Homo sapiens: one gene and its partners. The protein of the gene in region 2 interacts with the protein of the main gene of each other region in a biochemical or structural test. Each region holds a gene or a part of one and is shown on either strand. Other genes may lie near its edges.

The links.
Region 1: the proteins of VAPA (region 2) and VAMP1 form a complex in vitro, tested with the Homo sapiens proteins (one study listed by BioGRID).
Region 3: the proteins of VAPA (region 2) and RMDN3 interact in a test that uses a peptide from one of them, tested with the Homo sapiens proteins (one study listed by BioGRID).
Region 4: the proteins of VAPA (region 2) and KCNB2 interact in a test that uses a peptide from one of them, tested with the Homo sapiens proteins (one study listed by BioGRID).

What each region holds. Positions count from the first base shown.
Region 1 is NC_000012.12:6,461,711-6,467,681, reverse strand, and holds the end of VAMP1 (vesicle-associated membrane protein 1), read left to right. Parts: intron 1-577; exon of another isoform or gene 578-631; intron 632-1,330; coding exon 1,331-1,457; intron 1,458-1,681; coding exon 1,682-1,840; intron 1,841-2,740; coding exon 2,741-2,792; coding exon of another isoform or gene 2,793-2,806; exon of another isoform or gene 2,807-3,195; coding exon 3,196-3,212; 3' UTR 3,213-4,712; coding exon of another isoform or gene 4,713-4,723; 3' UTR 4,724-4,839; coding exon of another isoform or gene 4,840-4,850; 3' UTR 4,851-5,445; downstream 5,446-5,971. Other genes in the region: TAPBPL (tapasin-related protein isoform 1 precursor), read right to left, coding at 5,533-5,648. UniProt on the Homo sapiens protein: Involved in the targeting and/or fusion of transport vesicles to their target membrane.
Region 2 is NC_000018.10:9,951,986-9,959,015, forward strand, and holds part of VAPA (vesicle-associated membrane protein-associated protein A), read left to right. Parts: intron 1-2,067; coding exon 2,068-2,226; 3' UTR 2,227-7,030. UniProt on the Homo sapiens protein: Endoplasmic reticulum (ER)-anchored protein that mediates the formation of contact sites between the ER and endosomes via interaction with FFAT motif-containing proteins such as STARD3 or WDR44.
Region 3 is NC_000015.10:40,738,248-40,745,277, reverse strand, and holds part of RMDN3 (regulator of microtubule dynamics protein 3), read left to right. Parts: intron 1-18; coding exon 19-301; intron 302-1,050; coding exon of another isoform or gene 1,051-1,128; coding exon 1,129-1,231; intron 1,232-5,084; coding exon 5,085-5,145; intron 5,146-6,701; coding exon 6,702-6,777; intron 6,778-7,030.
Region 4 is NC_000008.11:72,561,215-72,568,244, forward strand, and holds part of KCNB2 (potassium voltage-gated channel subfamily B member 2), read left to right. Parts: intron 1-6,427; 5' UTR 6,428-6,520; coding exon 6,521-7,030. UniProt on the Homo sapiens protein: Voltage-gated potassium channel that mediates transmembrane potassium transport in excitable membranes, primarily in the brain and smooth muscle cells.

The DNA of each region.
Region 1 (5,971 bases), on a different chromosome or scaffold from region 2:
GACATGGCCTGGAGACATTTTCCCCATGGTCTTAGGGGCTAACACTAGGTTCCTTGCTACTTATGCAAATTTCTGCAGCTGCCTTGAATTTCTTCTCAAAAAAATGGTTTTTTTCTTTAGTACTGCGTCTTTTCTTCTGCCAGATACCCTAAATTATCTCTCTCAAGTTCAAAGTTCCACAAATTTCTAGGGCAGGGGCAAAATGCTGCCAGTCTTTTTGCCAAAACATAACAAGAGTCACCTTTGCTTCAGTTCCCAACAAGTTCCTCATCTCCATCTGAGACCACCTCAGCCTGGACCTTATTGTTCATATCACTAACAGCATTTTTGTCAAAGCCATTCAACAAGTCTCTAGGAGGTTCCAAACTTTCCCGCATTTTCCTGTCTTCTTCTGAGCCCTCCAAACTGTTCCATCCTCTCCCTGTTAACCCAGTTCCAAAGTCGCTTCCACATTTTTGGGTATCTTTTCAGCAACACCCCACTCTACTGGTACCAATTTACTGTATTAGTCTGTTTTCATGCTGCTGATAAAGACATACCCAAGACTGGGAAGAAAAAGAGGTTTAATTGGACTTACAGTTCCACATGGCTGGGAAGGCCTCAGAATCATGGCGGCAGGTGAAAGGCACTTCTTACATGGCAGCAGCAAGAGAAAATGTGGAAGAAGCAAAAGCAGAAACCACTGATAAACCCATCAGATCTCATGAGACTTCGTCACTATCACCAGAATAGCACCGGAAAGATGGGCCCCATGATTCAGTTACCTCCCCTGAGTCCCTCCCACAACATGTGGGAATTCTGGGTGATACAATTGAAGTTGAGATTTGGGTGGGGACACAGCCAAACCATATCAGCGGGGAAATGCCATTTAGGACAAGGCTAGGCCATATGTCCCTGTAGCCATCATGGCAGAGGACTTGTTTGAGTTGAGTCAAAGGATAGCCCCAGATGAGATGTCTTGATGCCATCCTGGATGTCCCTGAACCCCATCCAAATGTTGTTGCAGAGTCTTTCATCTTTTACTTCTTGCCTCTATGGTTTGTCTCCCTACTTCAGATTGCCAAGGAGCAAGAATCCATTCTAGTTTTGTATAGCCTAATCATAATTGTTTAAGTGGTTTGGGGTGAGGATGCATGTGAGTCCTTTCTTTTTGTCTGTTTTTTTAGAGATGGGGTCTCGCTATGATGCCCAGGCTGGCCTCGAACTCCTGGGCTCAAGCGCTCCTCCCACTTCAGCCTCTTGAGTAGCTGGGACTACAGGTGTGTGCTACCACGCCCAGCTCCTTTCTTGTCTTGGTCACTTTGTGTACTCTGCACATGTCTTTCCACAGGTCTGCTCCAGCTCAGCCACCTGCTGAAGGGACAGAAGGGACTGCCCCAGGTGGGGGTCCCCCTGGCCCTCCTCCTAACATGACCAGTAACAGACGACTACAGCAAACCCAGGCACAAGTGGAGGAGGTAGGTAGATAGCTGTTTCTCTGAAAGTTTCCAAATCTAGGAGTTTGGAAACAAAAGGGAACTTCTTATCTTTTCTCCTTTTTTCGTAGGAGAATAGTCAAAGGCCCTGAGAGGCAAAGCACCCTTTAGAGTTGCACAGGGCCAGACTTGTGATTCTCTGGTTGTTGTCCTTTCCTCTGTCTCTGGCAGGAAGCTTAGCTGCTTTGTTTCTGTGCCCTCCTCAGGTGGTGGACATCATACGTGTGAACGTGGACAAGGTCCTGGAGAGGGACCAGAAGCTGTCAGAGCTGGATGACCGAGCTGATGCCTTGCAGGCAGGAGCATCACAATTTGAGAGCAGTGCTGCCAAGCTAAAGAGGAAGTATTGGTGGAAAAACTGCAAGGTGAATTTTCTTGTCCCCTCCTCCATCTTTTCCTGGGCTTCCACTGGTAGAAGGCAAGAAAACCCTCAGCTTCTACATTTCTTCCCTCTAATGGTGCAGGATCTCTCTGACCAGCATAACGCTTGGGAGGAAATCTGGAAAGCCTCCTCTTGAGATTGCATTACCCAGAATTGGCCACCAGGGTAGGCTAGAGTATTTAGAACCGCTATCAGGGAAAAAGTGATACCCTGAGGAGTTTGGAATGGTTAGTTAAGGAGCTTTACCCCAAAGGAGTTGCCTGCAAAAAATTTCACCTGTCTCATCCTCAGACACACCCAACATCAGCACAATGGCTCAGGCATATATACATACACACACACACACACACACACACACTATATATACACATATGTATATATACATATATATACATTTATATATATATATACATATATATACATTTATATATATATATACATATATATACATTTATATATATATATACTTTTTTCTTTTTCTTTTAAATCAGCTTTCTCAGATTGAAATATATATTTTTAAATAACTGCAACTTTTGAGAATGAGCTGAACACTTCACAGTGAAAATTGAACTAATTGGTTAAATATCCAGAGTCTGTATCTCTATTGGAATGCCTTCTAAAGCCCCAAGACACCAGGAACTAAGCAAAAAGGAGCTCAATGCAGGTCCTGTGATGAATCTGAAAAGCTACAGACATACTGTGGTTATGATCCCCTGGGAAGCAGAAGGGTAGGGCCTCTCTAAGAGGCCTGCAGGTCTCCTGGGTGATGGGTGGTTTTTTCCATTGTCCCAAGGATGGAAGGAATTCTGTTTCCCACTAGAGATGTGGCTCTTTTCCTCATTCCTGAAATCCAAGGGCTCATTTTTTGTCCATGTTTCCTCAGATGATGATCATGCTGGGAGCCATCTGTGCCATCATCGTGGTAGTTATTGTAAGTAAGTATCGCTGAAGTTGCTGGTGGGGTGAAGAGGTGGGAAGGTCCTGGAGTCTTCTCCCTGCCTGCCTGCCTGCCTGGGGAGTGGGGCTGCTCTGACTGAGGTATGGAGACCGCTGCTATGGGATCGTCACCTGGTTCGGGACGGGGGAAGGGCAGAGACAAGGGATTTCTTTGATGGACAAGCCTTCCCCCTGCAACGCATTGCAGGGAGATGGCGCCTCCTGTTCTGAGGAAGTGGGGCTATGCTGTGTGTCACTGGCTTGGGTTGGAGGGAGACCATGGGGATGGGGCACTTAACAATGGAGAGACCTGAATGTCTGGTAACTTGGTGTAATTCACCCTCTTGTTTTCTCCTGTCTCTTTCTCTTTTCCGTCTGGGACTTCCTGATTCCTGTGTCCAGTCTACTTTTTTACTTGAGAATGTACCACCCCTTCCCTGTTGTCCATTGCCATCCACATTCATGTCCTCTGCCCTCTGTTTGCTCTCTCAACACACTTCCCCACCCACCGTCCTCCATTCCAGCCCAGGCTTCTCCATCACCCATTCCTCCTTTTTCGTTGCGTTCATTTGCACTCTGTCCCTCAACACTAGAAATGCTGCTCGTGGCACAATCTAAGTCATTACCCGAAGAGCAACAGCTGGCGCCTCCTCCCTGCCTGCTTTTTCTGTACTCTCAAGTTCCCCCAAAGCCCCAAAGAGTTGGAGGCCAAGGGAAGGGGCAGGGAGGGGAGTGGCTGAGGCGAAGTACCCATGAAGCTGCCCAGACTTGGGAGGAGAAGAGTATCGGTGCCCATGGTGACTTCTAGAAAACCTGGCCACTGGTAGGAGCTAGGGAGGGGCTGGGAAGATGGCAGCTCACTCAGTACTGCCTGGTCATGTGGAGCTTTCCTTCCTGGACCAGGCCTGAAGAGGGTCCTGGGGGTGGACCAAAGTCCAACTTGGTTTCAGTGCAGTACCCTTTTCGAAAGTAAAAACTTGTTTTTTGTAGTTATTTCTAATCTGTTCGTCCAGGATTTTCCGTGTCTTTGGGGATCTTACAACTTTACTTTGTTCTCCAGAGGCCTGGAGAACACTTAGGGATTGTGAAAATAGCAGGACTTGTTTCCATCCTAGAAGCAGTCCCATGTGCTTCTAGCTGGAAGGAGCTTTCTCTTCTTTACATTTTCTACAGCATTCTGTATGAGGGCACCAAATAAATCCATCTAGCTGGTAGTTTTATCTAGCCAAATAATTTAACCTAGCTCCCAGTTAATTGTTGGCATAAAGAGAGAGATTGCCTGTTAGTTATAGAGAAACAGTGAGTCAAGTGCTTAATTTGAAAGTAACAAGCTCAGAGGAAGCCACTCCTTGCCCTCGTTAAAGAGGGTCCTGTTCCTCTCTTCCTGTTGATGAAGGAGCGTGAGGGTGTTAGCAGTGTGAGATCTTTGGACACCCATGGAATCCTTTCCTCCACACCACCCGTGCACTTGCCAAAGACAGGGATGAGGCAAGTGGTTCTTCCTGGGGCCCGGCCGATCCTCAGGATGCAGAGAAGTCATGTAGACCCACCAGCCCCACCTTGGGGGGAGGCGTGCCAGCCTGTGTCAGGTGTGCTTGTGTATTGCTGTGCTGTCATGGGGCCCTCTCCTTGAGAGCCGCCTCTCTGTTCTTCCTGTAGTATATTCCCCTTTGAACCACCCTTTCCTGTCTGAATTCTACTTTGCCTCCTTTCTCTTCCTCCTCTTTGCATGGTTTGTGTGTATAGACAGTGGAACCTGAGGATGGGATCTGCTCAGCCTATCTTCGGGGCAATTGCTGAGCTTCAGGATGGGCTATTAATGTGGGATAAGCCCAGGTGCAAGGGGAGGAGGGCAGGCTGGGAACAGAGCGGAGAATGCCCATGGCCCTTTATTCCTTCTTCCCTCGGTCCACGAACAGGAAGAGGCTGAGGCCATGCTGGGCAGGGTCTGGATGCCCACTTTCCATGCAGCAGCATTTCATTGCTCAAAACCATCCTTCCTTTCCTTTCGCCCTTGTTTCCCACATTCCCTTCGTCCTGCCCAAGGGCGGGACTGAAGAGCTGGAAGAAAGCAGTCAGTACCCTCCCAACGGCCCCCCTCGAAGGTCTCCACTCTCCTCTGGGCTCCTCCTTGCCTAATGCAGGGGGTCACCGCTGGAGAAGAACCACCACTGTCCTCGATGTGTCCCAAGCCTGGAGCGAATCCGTCCTCTTGGCTCTCCCAGCCCTATCACAGGAATCATTCCTGGGTTTCTGTCCCTCTGAGGCTCACCAGGTGTAGTTGGCCTTGTTCTTTGGGGGTATTAGCCCTTCTACTTTCTTTCTCACCCACCCTGTACCCTCTTCTGTGTGTCTCTGCTATCCCCCTTTCCTCCCACCACCCATGTGCATGAGCAAATGTGCAACAAAACCCTGGGACTTTGCAGTCAAATGAAGCTGAGCTTCCCACATCCCGTTCTTCGGTTTGCCATGAGACGATGTGGGGTTTCCACTGTGTGTCTGTCATCACCTCTTTGTCTTTTTTTCCTAACCCTGATCTCATACTTGTATAGAGTAATAACAACAGTTGTACTTCCACCAAAGGCATGTGGCATATTTACCAATGTCATGTATTCTGAACAAAGGCAAAAAATACAAATTCCTACCATTAAACTGGCTTGGTTGTTGTTTGGGTTGGAGTAGCTGTGGGGGCTTGGGGAAGGGTGTCGTTTCTTTCTAGTAGTCTCATGTCGCTTTAGGTCAGCTGGGCTGGCTTACACGCGCTGTGCGGTCTTCATGGAGATGGGAGCTCTGTGTGTCAGCACAGGAAGTGGTCTCCCAGCGTTCAGCCTGAAGCAGCCCAAGTCCTGTAGGTGCTGGTAAGAGGAAGTGAAGACAGGAAGTTGCGTGGGCATCTCACACTGGCAAACAAGCACAGGTTCCCTCAGGCCTCTTCCATCTGCCTCCTGTGCTCCTTCCTAGGTCCTTGGCCTGCTTGTCCTGTCCCAGGGGATGTGCCCAGATAAGGCTGTCAGTGAACACCCCCTTACCCCCTTTTCCCCATCATCCTCACGTACAGTTTTGGTATGCTGAGTTCCACCGTATTGATTAGGCACATTTTAGAAACGAATAAAAAGGAGAAGTCTCTCCTTGCAGCTGAGGGAGTGAGGCATTTGCAGGTATCCTGAACCTCCCAGCA
Region 2 (7,030 bases):
TTGGTTACTTTTACTTCATCTGCCATGACTTCCATAGTTCTGTTCTTTGATAAAGATGTGCTCCTTAGGGTGCTCAATAGATTTCTTTCAAAAGCCACTGTTTACCTCTGGCAGGGAGGGGAGAAGTGGAAACAGTGAGAATGACATAGATGGGGCAGGGCTGGAAAATAGGAAGAGTGAACCAGGGAAGTAGGTGAGAGAGACTTTATTCCTGGTTTCTACTCTTTTTATGCTAGTGTTCTGTATGAGATTTTATTTGAGAGATGATTCTGCTGCTGGAAAAGTAAAACAAAAAAGCTGGGCTGGGCGGGTGGCTCACACCGGTAATCCCAGCACTTTGGGAGGCTGAGGCGTGTGGATCACCTGAGGTCAGGAGTTCCAGACCAGCCTGGCCAACGTGGTGAAACCCCGTCTCTATTAAAAATACAAAAATTATCCGGGTGTGGTGGTGGGTGCCTGTAATCCCAGCTACTTGGGAGGCTGAGGCAGGAGAATCACTTGAACCCAGGAGGCAGAGGTTGCAGTGAGCGAGATCACGCCATTGTACTCCAGCCTGGGTGACGAGCAAAACATCGTCTCAAAAAAAAAAAAAAAACAAAACCCTTGAAGACCCACTGGCTTACAGAATTTCAGACCCTATACACAGGCCCACCATAATTTTTTGCCAGGTTCACTTTCTTGCTCCTGTCTGTTCACTATCCCTTTTAATTCCCCTAGCCCTGTGGTTCTTAATTCACACTGCATGTGAATCACCTAGTGAGCTTTAAAAAGTTACAGTTGACCAGGCTTGCCCCAGACCTAATGAGTCACAATCACAGGAGTATTAAAAGTTCTGTAGATGTTTGTGATGTGTAGCTGAAACTGAGAATTACTGTTTATATAGGACTAATTAGCATGAGACCAAAAAAACCCAACTCCAGAAAATCCAGTAATGCAAATAAAACTGTGCCATTAGGTGTACTCTTTTAGTTAGTGTTTATTTATAAGCACAATAAAGGAATCATGGGAGAAAATATTGCCTTGTACTGAAAAAAGTAAAAAACTGTCCTGCCATTTATCAGATTGGTTAACAGACAGAGATAAAGACAACTGTGTAGTTAACAGGTATTAGTATTTTTCCCAAGGTTCACATTGCACACAGTGTCATAACAACCTCCTGCTTGGAGTGACTTCTGCTTTCTTCTGAGAAACCTTCTGCTCTAAAGACATAGTGCTGTGTGAAGCCATATCAGCAAGAATGAAGCAGCCTACTCTTGACTGGAGGATCTAAGTCATTTTGACACAGAGAAGCACCCTCATTTTCCAGTCCAGGTGCAGAGCTTCAGATAAGGGTTTCCTATGTACATTTCTCATCTAAATTTGTAGTTTCTGAAGAAACAGTATTCTTTCTCTGCTTTGCAGTCGAGACCTGGTGCTACCACTTTACACACAGCCCTCTGCTTTGCTTTGAGCATATAAAAACACTGTTACTTAAATTTCACGCTAAACTGTTTCCTTCCCCCAAATTCTGTGATACCATATCTCTGTTTACGGCAAGAACACCCTTTTGTGCCTCTGCTGTTCCGGTTCCTTAGTTGCAGTGTGTCAGTAAACCCAAATGGCAGACTACAGGTCTGGGTAGTTTTTGGCTGATTGGGCTAGGACGGATGTAACTGATTTTAAATACCATGGGCCACCTTGGAAGTACTCTTCTTTAATTATATTTTTAGTGGGATTTAAAAAAAGGTAAATATAGCCTATCTAACTTTTGCTTTTTAGGAATACATTTCTCAGCTCCAGTTTTAAAAAATCAGTGTTATTGAGGTATAATTTATATCCCATGGAGACACCCACTGTGAGTGTACAATTCATTGATACATAGAACTTTGTAACCATCACTATAGTTCAGTTTTAGAATGTCTATCACCCCCGGAAAGTTTCCTTATGTGGTTAGCAGTTAATCCCCTTTTCCGTCCCCAGCCATAGGCAACCACTAATCTACTTTCCGTCCCTATAGATTTTTAGCTCCAGTAGTCTCGTTAGTATGCTTGTTTTTAAAAACCTTTTGTGTGTGTGTTTTTTTTCTAGGATGAAGGTTTAAGGCTCAGAAAGGTAGCACATTCGGATAAACCTGGATCAACCTCAACTGCATCCTTCAGAGATAATGTCACCAGTCCTCTTCCTTCACTTCTTGTTGTAATTGCAGCCATTTTCATTGGATTCTTTCTAGGGAAATTCATCTTGTAGAGTGAAGCATGCAGAGTGCTGTTTCTTTTTTTTTTTTTCTCTTGACCAGAAAAAGATTTGTTTACCTACCATTTCATTGGTAGTATGGCCCACGGTGACCATTTTTTTGTGTGTACAGCGTCATATAGGCTTTGCCTTTAATGATCTCTTACGGTTAGAAAACACAATAAAAACAAACTGTTCGGCTACTGGACAGGTTGTATATTACCAGATCATCACTAGCAGATGTCAGTTGCACATTGAGTCCTTTATGAAATTCATAAATAAAGAATTGTTCTTTCTTTGTGGTTTTAATAAGAGTTCAAGAATTGTTCAGAGTCTTGTAAATGTTATTTTAATAATCCCTTTAAATTTTATCTGTTGCTGTTACCTCTTGAAATATGATTTATTTAGATTGCTAATCCCACTCATTCAGGAAATGCCAAGAGGTATTCCTTGGGGAAATGGTGCCTCTTACAGTGTAAATTTTTCCTCCTTTACCTTTGCTAATATCATGGCAGAATTTTTCTTATCCCTTGTGAGGCAGTTGTTGACTGAGTTTTTCATCCTTACAATCCTGTCCCATGGTATTTAACATAAAAAAAAATAAAACTGTTAACAGATTCTTGCTCGATAGCTTGTTTGTGTCTGTCGTGTTATTAGAGGGAACTCCACTATATATGGTCACTTGAAATTATGATGCAAAGGTTTCTCTTGCATTGAAACCCTCTTGGATATTACAGTATTTTTAATTGAAAGTCCTAATTCTGTTAAGGAAAGGAGTTGATTAAATTTTAAGGTACCACTGGTATTTTGGGAGATTATAATCAGTTTGTTTTCAAGATAATAGAAAATAAGGTCCATGAGAATAGAAGTTATGTGATTTCAGTGAGTTGATGTGTACAGCATGGCTGTGCTCCATCTGATTTACCCCATTCTTAAGTTCTGAGAGTATGTTCTCAAGGAAGATTTAACTCTCTTTGGTTTTAAATTACTTTTTAACCAGCCTAATAAATAAGTCTTACTACTTTTCATAATATTTCATAATAGTTAAAAGTAGGTGTTTTTTTCGTGCTCAATTTGGCACTCAAAATAATGTTCATTATGGAAGTTTGGTAATACTGAGCAAGCCTGTGGAATTTTCTTTATGAAAAATGATTTTAGCCTTTGCAAATGTTAACCATGTGAAACACATTTTCAGTATAAGTATGCGTTACAGGGTTTGATACTTTCCTGCACTTAGGTTTGTCCTATTCTTCATTTATTCATACTAGGATAGAAAATTTTGGAATCAGAAAATAGATCCAGTGTTTAGCTACATACAATCTAGTACAAGTGAATTTTTATTCTTAAACATAGGTGTGTTGGCTCTTTTTTTAAAAGATGCGCTCTACCTGAAAAGGAAATTGGATTTTAGAACTGGATGTGGTGCAGTGAAGTATTTTAGGCCCAGGTCTGTGTACACATTTTATAGAAGAATGAAGTACTCTGAAGTATTTTGGTTGCCTTTTCATTTCAACTGTGTTTTGAATTTGTCAGATCACACATATATTGTGTTATTGGGCGCTGTGGTATCTTTTATAAAACCTCTTGCTTGTGTGCAAAAGTTCCTAAAAGGAAACACAAGTAATGCCTATCCATTACTAGCATGCTATGCTGCATGCTTTACTGCCATTGCTGTATGCTTTACTGTCTTTGTAAAAATCCCCCTCTCCCCTTTTCTGGTAACTGGAAAAGCATGCTAAAAATAGTCTTATATTTTCACCCCATAAATGCAGAATCAGTAATTCCTTGGCTTAAAGCTCTTATATAATCAATATTATTGGTGGTAAATACCAAGTTTGGTATCTCATAGCTATCTTTTTTTAAAGAAATTAAGTTCTTGAAAATTTAGCCAAATCCCGTTTTATGGGAATGCTCTTTAGAATTCATTTTGTTCAGCCCCTTTGTTCTATGGTTGAGAAATCTGAGGCCTTACGAAGGTTAAGAGAACTTTCCCCGTGTCTCACAGGTAGGTAGAGGCAGAGCTGGAACTAGATATCTGGTCTGTTGACTCTAGCTCAGTGTCTTCTGGTAACTGTTGAAAATTGTCTTAGTTTGAGAGATGGCTGAAATAATGAACATAAAATGCTATTTATAATAACAAGTATATGTGAAATTTCTTATTGTAAGACTACTACCGGCTTACTGTTGAATAGTTTGGTTATAGTGTTTAGGCTAGAAATGCCTCCCACATTGGTAATAAACATTACAAAATACAATGTATTTTTAGGTAGGCATTTTATAAAATGCATTATGCCATGGTTGCTTTTGAGATAGATTGTAGTCTGGGTAGCATCTTTAAAATGTATGTGGGCTTAACTGTTGTTCATATCAGGAGATGCTCTGATTGTATAGGTGAGACTCTGTTTCTGTTATTTTTAATTGCTGTATGAAATGTGATCAGATTATTTTACTACCAACAGTTATAGTTTGAAAGTCCAACTGTATTAATTGACTGATAATATGATAATATAGAGATTAAATTGTTTGTCTTCATTCCTTATATGTTTAGAAGTTTTTGCTTTGTCTGCCTGCTTACTTGTATATGTAAGCATGAGGGAAATACACTGTTGCTAATACTGAAATTACAATCAAGTAACTAAGGCCTTGAGTTCATATGTGACACTGAATGCACTAGCTTCCTTCGTTCTATAACTAATGTACCTTAACTTCCCCCATTCTTATATTTACAAGAAGCTAAGTCATTATGTTCTGAGTGTGTGGTATGTTCCCTTAAAAAAAAATGACACTTGGAAGAAAAATGTATGAAATTCAGAAATTCCGATCAAAGAAAAGTAATTCTTTCTTTTTTTTTTTGAGACAGAGTCTTGCTTTGTTGCCCAGGCTGGAGGGCAGTGGTGTGATCTCACCTCACTGCAGCTTCCGCCTCCTGGGTTCAAGTGATTCTCATGGCTCAGCCGCCTGAGTAGCTGGGATTACAGGTGTGAGCCAACAAGCCCGGCTAATTTTTGTATTTTTAGTAGAGACAAGGTTTCACCATGTTGGTCAGGCTGGGCTCAAACTCCTGAATCCGCCTGCCTCGGCCTCCCAAAGTGCTGGGATTACAGGTGTGAGCTGCCGCACCCAGCCAAGAAAAATAATACTCTTAAATACTTAGATGTTCACCTAAAGTTGATATTATTTGGTATGGGAATTACTTTTGAACTGTAATCTTTCAGATTACACCACTTTGAAAACAAGTTTTAACAGTAGGGTAAAAATATAGTTTTTGAGGGTATTCCCAACTTGTGATCTTCTACCACTTTAGAGACATTCAAGTAATAGTTTTCTTAGAGCTTTGCACATTCCTATTCACTGAGATTTTAAAAATTTCACCTTTATTCGAGGGAAGGATCAATGCTTATTACCATTTGGAAAAACGAAGATCAGAAGGTAAATGATCTTTATTTTCTAGCTTTAAAGGGAAATTAAACCATTCATGAATAAACTTTAAAAATGTGAAGTGTCCTTTTCCTTTTCACAATACAAAAAAAATTTCAACAGATTGTGTGGTTTGTGCATTTATATCCTGTTAAGCATTAATAGCTAATCACTGGGACTTGAATTCTGATGGCAGATAGTCTCTTGCTTAGTGAGATGGAGTTAACTATTTTTTAGTAGGAAGTGAGAACAGCTGATTTTCATGCCACGTTTCATAGCCCCACTTTTGGTAGACTACCACCACGCTTCTTCGCGTAAGCAGTGGCATCTTGGGAATGAATGCCCAGCCGCTCGTGGGTTGGTGCAAAGAAGTATAAACATATATCACTAAGGAAAAAGAAAGTTTGTCTTGCCCTTCTGACACAGTGTGTGCACTTCAGGCAATTTTTGGAAAATATAAAAAATTCCAAATTCTGCCTTTCAGCAGCATCAATTGCTAGGAACATTTCATTCATTTCCCTGTAATATTAATGTTCTTTAAGCATAATCACTAATTATAAGTTGTATCCTATTTTTTTCCAGCTTAATTTCTGTGGTTTATTGAAAACCAAGTATAAATGTGACTAAAAGCATTTTGCTTTGTTTTTATAGTTAACTTTCTTAAGGTTATGGACATTTTATAATGTAACATTTGATTGGCCTGGCCTCTTGACAATTCCCTTCTAGTTATGCATATCCTCCTGTTGCCACATTTCTTGTTTTAAAACTCAGTTTCTTGTTTTCCAGTTGTTGCTATGTATAACACCCATCTTGAAAGAGAGTATATAGGAAGTTATTCAGATAACTTTTGTAGTAGTGATATTCAACTATAGCAGTACCTTAACTCATGATGAGCTTAGGAACATAAAAGATAATTGTTGCTTGAATAGCACCCCCAGAGATACTGACCTAATTGGTCTGGGGTGGAGATCTGGCATGGTAGTTTTTTTCAAGCTCCAATCATCGGCCAGACAGTTGCTTTATGTAGGTTTTTAAATGCCAAAGGCAGATATGAAGTAGATTTAATTAAGACTTGACTTCAGCAATACAGGGGAACTTAAAATACTTATTTTTCTTTAAACTGCAGGAGTCACTGTTAGGTATTGCTTAAAAAAAATTGCATAAAAGCTTTGCTTGTCAAGTTAGGATTGCTGGAATACCACTAAAGATTTTTGACTTGTGAATAAATGAGCTGTCATCGCAAAAAGGCGATTTGAGAAATGTGGGCTTCAGTATTAATTGCCATTTTGCTGACACCCAGTGTACCTACCTACCTGAGAAATTTATTTTGTCCATCATGTATTTCTCAAAGCAAAAGGTGGTTTTCAAGTATAATGTCGTTTTCAACATGCTTATTACTTAG
Region 3 (7,030 bases), on a different chromosome or scaffold from region 2:
CTTACATTTCTCTGCCAGTTACACAACAGCCAATGCGGAGTCTGACAATGAGCGGGACTCTGACAAAGAAAGTGAGGACGGGGAAGATGAAGTGAGCTGTGAGACTGTGAAGATGGGGAGAAAGGATTCTCTTGACTTGGAGGAAGAGGCAGCTTCAGGTGCCTCCAGTGCCCTGGAGGCTGGAGGTTCCTCAGGCTTGGAGGATGTGCTGCCCCTCCTGCAGCAGGCCGACGAGCTGCACAGGGGTGATGAGCAAGGCAAGCGGGAGGGCTTCCAGCTGCTGCTCAACAACAAGCTGGTGGTGAGGCTCCAGCTGCCTGTCTCCTTCTCCTTCCCTCCCTCCCTCCATCTCTCTGTTCCTGACCCCTGGGGAATGAAGGCCCGTGTGGTTACTGCCCCTACAAGGTGACATGGGACGAGAAATGGTGAGACAGCTGGTTTTGCATCTGTCCCCCAGGTCACATATCCTCTTCCAAGGAGGCCCAGCGTGGATCCTAGGGCCAGTGTACTGCTTGCCCCAGAGCTGCCTCCCCTCTTGGGAGGGGGAGTGTAGTTCTCTGCTTTCTGTAGAGCTACTGCAGAAAGAGCTCTACCTCTCACCTCTAGGGGGAAATGTGGAAAGAACTGTATTTTTTTTTTCTCCTCATTTCCCTTGAGGCAGAGTCCAAGCTGCCAGCCCCATTACAAGCGACAACTGTGTAGGTCACTCAACCATAATTCTCTTGTCAGGTTCACTGACAGAATATATGCCCACCCAGGTATAAATGCCCCCCCCCCAGAAGTTAGAAGTTTCCCTTTTCCTTTCACACTTTCTTCATGTGTCAGCAAAAGACCTCTCGTGCCTTATGACATCTTGGAGTTGACCTTTCCTCCCAGCAGTTCTAGGAGGTCAGAATGCCCTCACCCCGTAATTGTGCAAGCTACTGGCTAGACAGAGAATGTGTCATACATTAACTGCACGTGGGAAGGGATGACTGGGGGGAAGGCTGCGTGTAGGAGCTGGCCTGATATTGATGACTGTAACATACTAGCTTGGAAATTCAAACCTAGGGTGTGGGGGAAGGCCAAGGCCCCCATTCTCCACAGTTGAGGAAAAAGGGGCCTCACCCGTTTCTGTCTGGTCTGCAGTATGGAAGCCGGCAGGACTTTCTCTGGCGCCTGGCCCGAGCCTACAGTGACATGTGTGAGCTCACTGAGGAGGTGAGCGAGAAGAAGTCATATGCCCTAGATGGTAAGTGCTGACAGCTTCCTGTGGGAAGGTGACTGACTGATTCAGGGGTGGGGCTGGCCCATCTGCCTGGGGACCCGGGGAACCACCAAGATGCTGTCAGCAGTTGTGGCTCAGTTACCCACTAGGGACAAACTCTGGCTCCCAAAGACCCTTGCTTTCTCCTCTGGAAGAAGAGAGCAGTCTTTGCTTATCTGTATATCATGCTGATTAGTAACACACGTGCATGTGTTTCTAGGAGTAGTTGTATCCTATCAATGTTATTCGTTTTTCTCACTCTAGCCACAGAGGGCAAAACCTTTTTTCTTAACCTGAGGTTTTTTGCTGCTGCTTAGAAATCTGGTTTCAGTTTTCTGAGCTGGTGGGGCAGGTGTTCTAAGAATATAGCTAGCTTAGAAGACTCTGGAATCCACTTGGCAAGTCTGTTGGCAAAGGCTCCACCCTGGAGGATAGGGTGCATCTGACCTGTGCCAGGCTCAGGGCTTGGCCTTATCTGTCATGAGGTCAGAGAATGCTTGGACTTTAGAGACTGATGTGTCCTGCTGAACTCCACACACTGAGTCAGGTACCATCAATGGGTAATGGGTTTCTAGGTCTGTGGTTCAGTTAATATCTATTTTTTTTTTTTTTTTAAACAGTCTTTCTCTGTTGCCCAGGCTGGAGTTCAGTGGCCTGATCTCGGCTGACTGCAACCTCCACCTCCTGGGCTCAAGCAATTCTCCTGCCTCAGCCTCCCCAGTAGCTGGGATTACAAGCACATGCCATCATACCCGACTAAGTCTTGTATTTTTAGCAGAGATGGGGTTTCGCCATGTTGGCTAGGCTGGTCTTGAACTCCTGGCCTCAACTGATTCACCCACCTAGGCCTCCCAAAGTGCTGGGATAACAGGCATAAACCACTGTGCCTGGCCAGTTAACTGTCTAAAATGGATTTGTCTACCTTTCTATTGTAAGTACAGCCTTACAAATATTATTGAATCCTTGATAATGTATACTCAAACAGTACCTCAAAGTTAACATTCTAAACATTTGTAGAATTCTGTCAATGGAGAAAGAACAGACCAATTGAGTAGGATGTCTCTGTAGACCCTCAGAAAAATTCCTGGAAGTTTTAACAAAAGATGCTTATTTATGATTACTTTTTCTCTCCAAAAGTTTGTTTTCCCTCCTAAATTTCAGATGAGGATTCTCAGCTTTTGGGCTGATTTTTGGACTCTTCATGTCAACAACCTTTCCTTTCCCTCTTGATCATTGGTCATCTCTTATTAGTGCTAGTAGCCAGCATGAACCCCAAAGACAGAAGTGGAGGCAGTGGTTAGCAGGGCAGCACTTGGTTGGTCTGGCCTCCTGAGCTTAGCACCCATGGACAAAGCTTTACCTGCTGGAGGTCAGATGACTATGGAATGTCTTTGAAGGTTCTGCTCTGAGATCACAGCCTTTAAGAATTATCCTTACTGGGTATAAAGTTTATTTCATTGTATCTCTAGGAGCTGGACCACCAGGAGGCAGTCATTCTGTGGGGTCTCAGGCAATGTCTTGTCTACAACACTGTCTGTCTAGCTTGGCAGGAACTAGTTGTCTCATTCTTTGCTATTATTTTCCTAGTGAGACAGTACTTTGAAGAGGGCAGAGAGAAATCCCCAAAGAGGCAGCGTCCCTCATTGGTGGGGCCATGTGGTCCCTCTCTTTGGGAAGAGAGGTAGAGTCTTTCACAGCATCAGTTGTCTTAAGAATGCATTTGTGGCCAGGTGTGGTGGCTCATGCCTATAATCCTAGCACTTTGGGAGGCCAAGGCAGGAGGATTGCTTGAGCCCAGGAGTTAGAGACTAGCCTGGGCAATATAGTGAGACCTTGTCTCTACAAAAAAAAAAAAAAAAACTTAAAAAATTAGCCAGGCATGGTGGTGGAACATGCCAGCAGGAGGATTGTTTCAGCCCAGGAGGCAGAGGTTGTAGTGAACTGAGATTGCACCACTGCACTCCAGCCTGGGCAACAGAGAGAGACCCTGTCTCAAATAAAAAAAGGAAAACATTTCAGATTAGCCAGTTTACCACCTCAATGCATTACATTTGTTCCATTTTCTCCATGTTCCCTTCCAAACTTGTTTTCTTCAAAGAATTCTTGGCTGGGCACGGTGGTTCGCACCTGTAATCACAGCACTTTGGGAGGCTGAGGTGGGCGCATCACCTGAGGTCAGGAGTTTGAGACCAGCCTGGCCAACAAGGCAAAACTGTCTCTACTAAAAATACAAAAATTAGCCAGGTGTGGTGGCACACACCTGTAATCCCAGCTACTCGGGAGGCTGACGCAGGAGAATCACTTGAACCTGGAGGCGGAGGTTGCGGTGAGCCTAGATCGTGCTATTGCACTCCAGCCTGGACGACAGAGTGAGACTCTTGTCTCAAAAAAAAAAAAAAAAAAAAAAAAAATCCTATGTTGCAGTGTCTTCTCCAGTGCATAGGCATGATGGTCCTTATCTGGTGGTCCGTAAGCTCCAGCCTCGATACTCTTAAGTGACGCTTGTCAGAACTTTCATGTTTATGGGCTTTCATTTCTTTGTTAGAACACTAACCTAGAAAACTCGGGTAAGACTAAGTGAACGTCATCTCTGGTCAGACCTCAGTCCATGTGGCTCTTGTGAAAGAGTTTTGGCCTAGAGCTAATTAATATTGTTGGATCGTGGATCCTTTTGAGAATTTTTTTTTTTAAAGAGATGGGGTCTGCCTATGTTGCCCAGATTGGTCTTGAACTCTTGGTCCCAAGCTATCCTCTCCTTGGCCTCTCAAAGTTCTAGGATTACAGGTGTGAGCCAATGTACCCATCCCCTTTAGGGAATTTTTTCAAAGCTGTGATCTCTCTCCCCACTTACTTAAATTTTATACAACTTGAGATTCATGGACACTGCCCCTCCAGAGTAAGGTCTGTTGGGGACAATTTCTGATTGTGTTGGATCCGTTGTTGTTGTTTTTTTTGAGGTGGAGTTCGTCGCCCAGGCTGGAGTGCAGTGGTGCAATCTTGGCTCGTTGCAACTTCTGCCTCCCAGGTTCAAGTGATTCTCCTGCCTCAGCCTCCTGGGGAGCTGGGACTACAGGATGTGCCAACATGCCTGGCTAATTTTATATTTTTAGTAGAGGCAGGGTTTCACCATGTTGCTCAGGCTTGTCTCAAACACTTGGCCTCAAGTGATCCACCCACCTCGGCCTTCCAAAGTGCTAGGATTACAGGCATAAGCCATCGTGCCTGGCTGGATCCTTTTATATTTTAAATGCTAAAATCTGCTTCAAGCACATCAGGTGGGCATTATAAAAAGAAGGTAACTGGGGTTTCTAATGACAGATGGGGAAGCCAAGGTGAAGCAGAAGTCATCCCTGAAGTCTTCCCTTAGAAGCCGTTTGCAGCCTTTTCTGAGACAGTCTTGCTCTGTCACCTAGTCTGGAGTGCAGTGGTGCAATCTCGGCTCACTGCAACCTCTGCCTCCTGGGTTCAAGCGATTCTCCTGCCTCAGCCTTTTGAGTAGCTGGGACTACAGGCGCCTGCCACCACGCCCAGCTAATTTTTGTATTTTTGGTAGAGATGGGGTTTCACTGTGTTGGCCAGGCTGGTCTCCGACTCCTGACCTCAGGCGCTCTACCCGCCTCAGCCTCCCAAAGTGCTGGGATTACACAGCACAGAGGCGTGAGCCACTGTGACTGGCTTCTTTGCGGCCTTTCATTCTGCTCAAGTTCACAACTATTTCCAAACAAGTCCAAGCTGGGTAGGGATTGGTGAGAGCTAAAGCAGTCATTCTTCCCACAAGCCTTCCTATGAAAGTGTGCATAAGAGCTATGTCAACTCTGGATCTACCTTCGTCCTACAGGAAAAGAAGAAGCAGAGGCTGCTCTGGAGAAGGGGGATGAGAGTGCTGACTGTCACCTGTGGTAATAACACCCTGCAGTGTTCTGGGAAGAGCCAGCAAGGGCCAAAGCAGAGGACAGCCCTTTCTTTTCTCTGCCTGGGCCACAGAGGCATTTTCCAAAGGATCCAGGAGAGGGAGTTCTGGCTTGTATCTCCACATGCCTCAGTCTACCCCTAGCCAGAGACAAGGGAAGTTTCTGGTAGGGGAGGTGGCTTAGGGATGAGGCAAGCGGGGAATACAAGCTTTTTTTCTGATGGGGCTTGGAGAAATGAGTAGCTTTGTTAAGAGTCATCCTAGCTACAAAACTGGAGTTCTTGGCTCTCAGGAGGCTGGGACAATCTGCAGCTCCCCTATCCTGCATAAGCTCTTCTTTCCCCTGCGTGTGATCCCTGGCTGCTGGTACTTTGGCTTCTTTGCTTGGTTCATGTGAGGAAAAGTAGATGTGAGCTCACCCCCCAGAAGTTTAGTGGTCAATTTATTAGGCTGCAAAAACATCAGCCCTTTTTGTGGTCTCATGTGAGGCAAAGTTCTGTCAGCTTACCTGGGCCACGGCTAACTCATATCCTGGGGTCTGGTTCCAGCACCTGAGTTTTAGTGAAAATGTTCCTTTCCTTTCCCACCGCCACCCTTGCTTTCCATGTCTCCACCCTCAGACTGTGAGCTAAGTGAGAGGCTGTGTTTCTCCATCTGTTGCTGAAACTTTTGTCTCTGCAAGGGTTCTTCTCAGAGGCCAGGTAACTGTTTCTTGGGTGTCACTGCTTCCCTGGGCTTCCAAGGATGAACAGCTATTCCTGAGGAACAGCTGTTTGGATTAAACATGGAAATGAGCCTCTAGAAGTATCTGATACCCCCCGGATACTTAGCATATACATGAAAAAGCAACTTGGGCTGGTTACTCATCGAATGTCAACTGTGCTGCTAGGAACAATGCTGGGGGGATGGGGAAGTAAGACTTTGTTTCTGAAGACAGATGATGGGAAGCTGGCTGGCTGGTTCCCTTTGGGAGGGGGGATGTGGGGGAGAAGGCATATATAGGAGGTCTTTCTTCCTCTGGTTCTGTTGGTTTCCAAGTAACATCAGAAATTCCTAGAATATCCCCTCCCAATGTGACTATCCTAAGAAATTGCTTCCCAAGTCCCAGTGATACACCTGTATGCTTAAAGGCTAATGAGACCCACTTTTTTGTCTGCCCAGAAGATAAGTAGTATAGTCAGGTCTCATACTTTTATGCTGATTGTTTTCATGCTTTTCAAGTTTTTATTAATGCCTGTGGCTGTACTCCTTATGAGTGTAGGAGAGATTTACTGTGTAAGAGAGATTTACTGTGGTGAACCCAGCTTTTTTTATACCTAGAATACTTTGGAGACTTGTAAGCCTACCATTATCTACTAAAGAATACTAATTGGGGCCAGAGGTCCGTAAAGAATGGGGATTACGTACAGATGAAAATTAGGTATTTTCAGCTCTAGTTGAGGGTACAGGGATAGGGGACAATGCAACTAGGCTGTGGTTGGGGCATCCATTCCTTGCAGTGATGGTACTCAGCCCTTGTCCCTGAGCTTGCTGCTTCCCCCCTAGGTATGCGGTGCTTTGTGGTCAGCTGGCTGAGCATGAGAGCATCCAGAGGCGCATCCAGAGTGGCTTTAGCTTCAAGGTGAGGACAGGCTTTTCCTCCTTCCTTGTGCTGGCCTATCCCAGATTCCCCACTCCTTTCCAGCTCCCTGCCAAAAACTTTTCTACAGCCTCAGTGACTTGCCTTTCTTCTTTTTTTTTGAGACAGAGTCTCACTCTATCGCCCAAGCTGGAGTGCAGTGGTGTGATCTTGGCTCACTGCAACCTCCTGGGTTCAAGCGATTCTCCTGCCTCAGCCTCCCAAGTAGCTGGGATTACAGGCATGTACCACCATG
Region 4 (7,030 bases), on a different chromosome or scaffold from region 2:
GGCACAATCTCGGCTCATTGCAACCTCTGCCTCCCAGGTTCTGGCAATTCTCCTGCCTCAGCCTCCTGAGTAGCTGGGACTACAGGTGTGCGCCACCACTCCCAGATAATTTTTGTATTTTTTGTAGAGATGGGGTTTCACCACTTTGGCCAGGATGGTCTCGATCTCTTGACCTCATAATCTGCCCACCTTGGCCTCCCAAAAAAGTTCTATTTTTTTTTTAAACTAAGGAGTATATAGTTGTGCTAAATTTGAGGAACAAAATGATATTAGCAGCCTTTGATTGCAGAAAAGAAATGTCACCTTCCACTTTCTAAGGACAAGGACAGCATTTCAGTTATTTCTAGAACTTTATGTGTTAAAAAATAATAAGCAGTATGAAATTTATTAAATATTTCTGACCAGGTTCTAAAGTAATGCAGGTTGCAGGTTTGTTGAATTTCTTAGAATAGCTGAAAATTTCCAGGATCTTACTTTTATATATATATATATATATATATATATATATATATATCTATATCTATATATATATGTATATATATATATGGATATATATATATATGGATATATATATACATATATATATATATGAATGATAGTTTTTAACTTGCTATAATGTTATTGGTTTTTATTAGTAAATTTTGGAGGTGCTTTCAAAAATTGCAGCCAACAATAGAATTAAAAAATATACATTGATTTAATCTTCAGCTAACAGTTACAATGCCTTTCTCTTCAGATATCTACTGCAAATCATCTTGTGGTTCTTTGAAACATAGTTTCTACAGAAACTTACTACTTAATGCTATACATGAAAATTTAAGAAAATGCCTTAGAGCTATATATGGAGTGATACAGACTTAAAGGTCTCAGAGATGTTTGTTTGCAGTGCCTGCTCAGCATGTTCTAGCAACACAAAAATGAAATGTTAAACATCACTTACAACTTTAGAAAGGTTTGCTTTTTATCTTCACAGGATCGCACATGTGACTTACCCTGCCTGGCTCCATGAAGGAAGTGTCAAGTGTATGACATAATGCTAGTATTTTTGAGACTACAGTAAACCCCACTCCCCCTCCAAACCTGGAGCCTCAAGCTGTAATTAGGATGCCATGATGAGAAAGTTGTGTTTTGTCAGTTTTGGCCCTGAGCGGGTGGCAGCATAATGCCACGCTGCTGTAGAAGCAGGGTGCAGCCGTGCAAAACTCAAATGTTTGTTGTTGTTTATTGTTTACAGAGCTGCTTTTTTTTCTCTAGAAGACTAATGAAGGGATGGTGAGTACATTTGCACTGGCTGACTGATTGTAGCAAGCTTAACTTTCAATTGATTGAATGAGGTGAAATAAATCAACAAACTGCCAAGAGAAAATATTCACTAAGATTTTGCCCTTGACATGAAAACATGTGTTCTGAGGTCTCAAACAAAAGTGCCTTCTGTTTATACTGACAATTTATGTTTATAAATTATTCACAGTTGCATAATATCTACACAATTTAAGCATTGAATTATTGCATTTTATATTATACTTATATACAGAATTGAACTACATGATTAATTTTATGGGGTAAAAAATCATTATGATAGACATAAATTCACTTATGAAAGTATATGTGAGAAAATGTAACATCATATACACTTTAATTACGGAAATTAAAAACATAAATTTTGTGAACACTCTAGGGTCGTAAAACACAATACCCTTACCCACAGGGAACTGGCAGATTCATTGCTAGAAGTAAAATTAATATGGCAGAAAAGGACATAAATTTAAAATGAAAAGTTAAAGGATAGAAAATCAACTAAACACTAAATAAAATAAATGAAACATTCATGATGTTCTGAAGGTAGTTTGTTTCAAGCCATGATAAATATTAAAGTAAAGGTTCTTGAAATGAAATATGAAAACCACCTTCCTCAAGAAACTAGACATGGAAAATGTTTCATTGACTGTGAGGCAGCATGATAAGTTTATTTCTATCTAAAGTAAGGATGATGATTAGAGGGCATAGGGAGGTAAAAGGGGCAGAATCACAGTGAAAGGAAAAAATTAAGTGTCATAGGAAATAAAAGAATTTTAGGCATGGACATGCTACCACTTAATGGGTGAAGAAATTAAAGTTCAATTAGCAATTGAGGGCAATGTGGAACTGAGGTGTTCTGAGCCTCAGACAGAGCCCCTTTTATGATCCCATATGACCTCCAATTCTGTTTAGATGTTTTTATCTCCTGGAAGGTATTTTCAGCCTAGGAGGCCTCTGTATTAAGATTGGCTACAGAAAACTTAATGAAGTATGTACAAGTCTGAAAAAATAGTTTGGTTTTGTGCTTGTTTAAGTGGCTGTGAGGATAGAAAGATCTAGGGATCAGGACAGGAAAGGAGGGAAAGCAAAGGAAGAAAGGTAGCATGTGGCGTTAACAGACATGGGGGAAGGTAAGAGAAACCCACAGAAGAAGAGATAGAAGGGAAAATGGCAAGCAGGCAAGCAGAAAGGCTCAGTGAGTTTCAAAGGCACTGTTGATCAGGGCTGATGCTCTGCAGCTTGCATTTATTATGGGCTTATTCTGAAGGCTTGATTAACTTTTGGAACACTATTCACAGCTCTTCAACTGCTCAGGAACTTATGCCTTTGAGCCTGCACTCTTTATCAGGTAACAAGCAGAACATTCTGCCCAGGGAGAATAAAAAATCTTTTAACCATGGTAACAATAATAAGAGCAGATCATTTTTAAGTCTTAAGAAAATCAAATCAACAGGGAATTTTCTCACCCTTATTTTCTCTATCCCTGCTATGAAGAAAGGGCAGTGAATTTCAGTTTGTCTTTTATTGCGGGACTTGTAATCAACACTGGATCTCTTATAATAGAAAGTTCTTGATCAGTGAAGAAGATATTTTGAAAGTTAAGTCTTATGACCTCTCTTCTCTTGAGACACACACCCTACAAAAAGGAAAATTCACTATACACAATGCACATGAAATTATTTAAGACAAATAGTGACCTTACCAGTGACTATGATATAGCATTTCCTTTTTTAATGACTTTTTCAAAATAGCAAGTCACACCATGCCTTTGCCACAAACAAATGAGATATTTGTGTCATTCTGGAGTTAGTTCTCTTCCTGGAAAACCTCTTATCTGATATTATAATCAGTTAAAAAATGATTTATCTTCTTCATGTTAGTATAAAACATGGTGTTCAAAAAGAGTACATTTATTTTATTTTTATTTGTATTCAAATTCAAAATGCATCAGCTCACAGTTTATTTATGTGGACAATTCAATGATTGATTGTTGAGATGACAGTGTACCTACAACTAAGTTATTTAGTGGAGACTCCACATTCAGATTCATCACTGGAATTGCCCCATCTCTAATATTTTCGGCTGTTTTTGCCTCATCCTGATAGTGTTGCTCAATTTTTAACATATATATATAGTTCATCATCACCTGAATATAAAGTTAGGACATGAACATCAGTGGCGCCAAAGACAGATGCTATGAGGTGCCTGTTATGTGTGGGTTGAGGGCTCAGTAGAGAAAAGTTTGGACCCACAATCCCAGGCCTGCCTTTATAATTCAATGGGAAAGACAGAACATATATGTAAAGAGAAAACTTAAAAGCTAGAATTTATTTAATAGACACTAATATAGCTTTAATCTTAGTTTTCTTTCAGTGCTTGGAAACCAAACTTTAGGGAGAAATATGAATATTCTTACTCTATTCAGATATACCTCCTTGTAATGAGCATTTCACATAAACAATCTCATCTAATCATCATAATACTGTACATGAAATAGATACTATTATCTTTATTTTGTAGATTAGAAAATTCAAGCCCAGAGAATTTAAGTTGCTTAGTCAATCATTATAGAGCTTCTTATTTTTGTAAAGATAAGCATTTTTGTCATGTGTGATGAAAATGTGTGTGTATATATATATATATGCTTAAAATATTCCTGTAACTCTGTAGTTGAAAAAACTCCTGCTGCAAGTATATTTATTGGCCACATTTAAAGTACTTCTTATATAGTCCATCTACATTTTTCATTACCTTGACTTATATTCATTCAAGAGAATCTTTCGCCTCCAGAACAATAAATAAATTTAACTTGCAGGATGGAGAAGCCAGAGGCATGCAGAAATTGGTGTGTATCCTAGAAGAGAGTTCTAATTATAAGGACCTCTTAAATCTAATAGTTTTTCCCTTTAGTATAAGCTGTTGACTGTGTGAAACATGATGTTTTACATTAAAGGTGGTATTTTGGATGAATTGCTTGAAGCTCTATGATTTTCTGCAAAAACATTATAGGGGAAGATAACTAAGAAGATGCTTGCTGCTGCAGATCAGAATAACAGATCAATAAGAGGGACTACAAGAGCAGTAATGCTTTAAAGAATTAGCACACAGGAGAAAAGAGCCATGAAGCAGAATACACACACACACACACAACACACACACACACAACACACACACACATTCTGATGTATATTATATACACATAACATATAAACACAGATGCATTTTAAATAATTGATCCCAATAACTCCATTTTTGCATTTTCTGGCCACATATATTACTTTGGTCAGCTCTCTTGTGGAAAATAATTAAAGAATGGATTAACTGTTTAATATTTATTAAACTCCTACACTGTATAAGCACTGTGCTTGGTGATAGGAATGTAATAATAGAGAAGATGTTCTTTGTCCTCAAGAGTTCCCAGCATACTATGGGAAAGGTATGTTGCAATGGTATGGTGGAAGTTTCATGATCCCAGAGTGGGAATATTATGGAGAGCTTTCTCTAGAAGGTGAGGTTTGAGCTGAGTCTTGAAAAGCAAGTACTAGTTAGTCAGAAGGAAACAAGAAAAATGTTTCTAGAACACAGTATGGAAAGGCCAGGAGCTTAAAAGGGAATGTTGTGTGCAGTCTGGGATTGCTGGAATATAATGATGAGGGAAAGATGAAAAGTGAAGGTGGAGAGGAGGCTGGACCTACTAGGACTAACTAGGCTTTAAAGTGCTGGTAGGACTTCAAAAATAAAATTCCAATAATGATGACATTTTGCAGAGTTTAAAGCATGTGAGTGGCAAGGTCAAATTTGTATCTTAGCAGAGCATTCTAATAGCTATGTGGAGAATGGTTTTTAGGTGGACAAAACCCGAGTTTGGGATCCAATTTAAGGCTGTATTAGAAGTGTAGGCAAGGGCTGGGCACGGTGGCTCATGCCTGTAATCCCAGCACTTTGGGAGGCCAAGGCCAGCGGATTGCTTAAGCTTGGGAATTTCAGACCAGCCTGGGAAATATAGTGAGACCCTGTCTCTAAAAAAAAAAAAAAATACAAAAATTAGCCAGGCATGGTGGTGCAAGCCTGTAGTCCTAGCTTCTTGGAAAGCTGAGGTGAGAGGATCACTTGAGCCCAGGAGGCAGAAGTTGCAGTGAGCTGAGATTGTGCAGTGAGCTGAGATTGTGCCTGGGCTACAGAGTGAGACTCTATTTCAAAAAAAAAAAAAAAGAAAGAAAGGAAAAGAAGTCTAGGCAAGTAAGTGATGCTGAGAGTTCGAACCAGCATTGTGGTAATGGGAACCTTGGTAACAGTGTTGGAGGCCTTAAGCAATGGTTAGGAGCTATAATTGGTAAGACTTGGTGCTTATTTGGATGTGGATGGATGGATCAGGATTTCACAGAGTTTTAGTGAGGGTGACCGGGTATGGGGTGGGGAAGGCCGTAAATCTGAGACGGAGAATGATCAGGAACTGGTTGGGCAGACTGGCACCTTGGTCAGTTTAGCTTAAGATGTCTGTGGTTTATCTAGAAGGAGTTGATCAGGGTGAGGTGCAGCGGCTCACCCTGTAATCCCAGTACTTTGGAACGCTGAGGCAGGTGGATTGCTTGCACCTGGGAGGTCAAGACCAGCCTGGGCAACATGGAGAAACCCCATCTCTACAAAAAATATAAGAATTAGCCAGGTGTGGTGGCACGTCCCAGGTACCTGGGAGGCTGAGGTGGGAGGATCATCTGAGCCCAAGAGATCAAGGCTGCAGTGAGCTGTGATGGTGCCACTGCATTCCAGCCTGTGTCACAGAGAGAGACCTGTCTCAAAAAAAAGAGTTGATCAAGCACATGGATCTTTTAGTCTGCAGCTTGAGAAAGAGGTCTCTCATGACATGTTTGGGAGTTGCCAGCCTATAGGTATATATCACTGAATACACAACCTCTTCTGTGTAGTACACTGTGTTGTCTTTTCCCCCTTTCCTATATCCTAAAGCAAAGACACATATCTCCAAAAGTATGTAGACATTAATATTGTACCTTCTGGTTGTATTCAGTCGTTAATATTGTACCTTCTGGTTGTTACAACAGAATGATCCCATAGAACAGAAACACTCTAGGAAAATGCAAGTAACCAAGTGATTGTTGCTTTCTTCCAGCTTTGTCAGTGGAAATGCCTGCCCCAGAGGGATATTGCTTCAGTTGACCTCATTTTTTAAGGACCCTGGCTCTGCGGCTTTGTCCAGTTCAAAATGGCAGAAAAGGCTCCCCCGGGCTTAAACAGGAAGACTTCAAGGTCGACACTTTCCCTTCCTCCAGAGCCTGTGGACATTATCCGGAGCAAAACATGCTCCAGGAGAGTTAAGATCAATGTGGGGGGCCTCAACCACGAAGTCCTGTGGAGAACGCTGGACAGGCTGCCCAGGACGCGCCTGGGGAAGCTTCGAGACTGCAACACACACGAGAGCCTCCTGGAAGTGTGCGACGACTATAATCTGAACGAGAACGAGTATTTCTTTGATCGGCATCCAGGAGCCTTCACTTCCATTTTAAATTTCTACCGGACCGGGAAACTCCATATGATGGAAGAAATGTGTGCACTTTCGTTTGGCCAAGAACTTGATTACTGGGGGATTGATGAGATCTACTTGGAGTCCTGCTGCCAGGCCAGATATCATCAAAAAAAAGAACAAATGAACGAAGAACTGAGGCGAGAGGCAGAGACTATGCGAGAGCGAGAAGGAGAAGAGTTTGATAATACC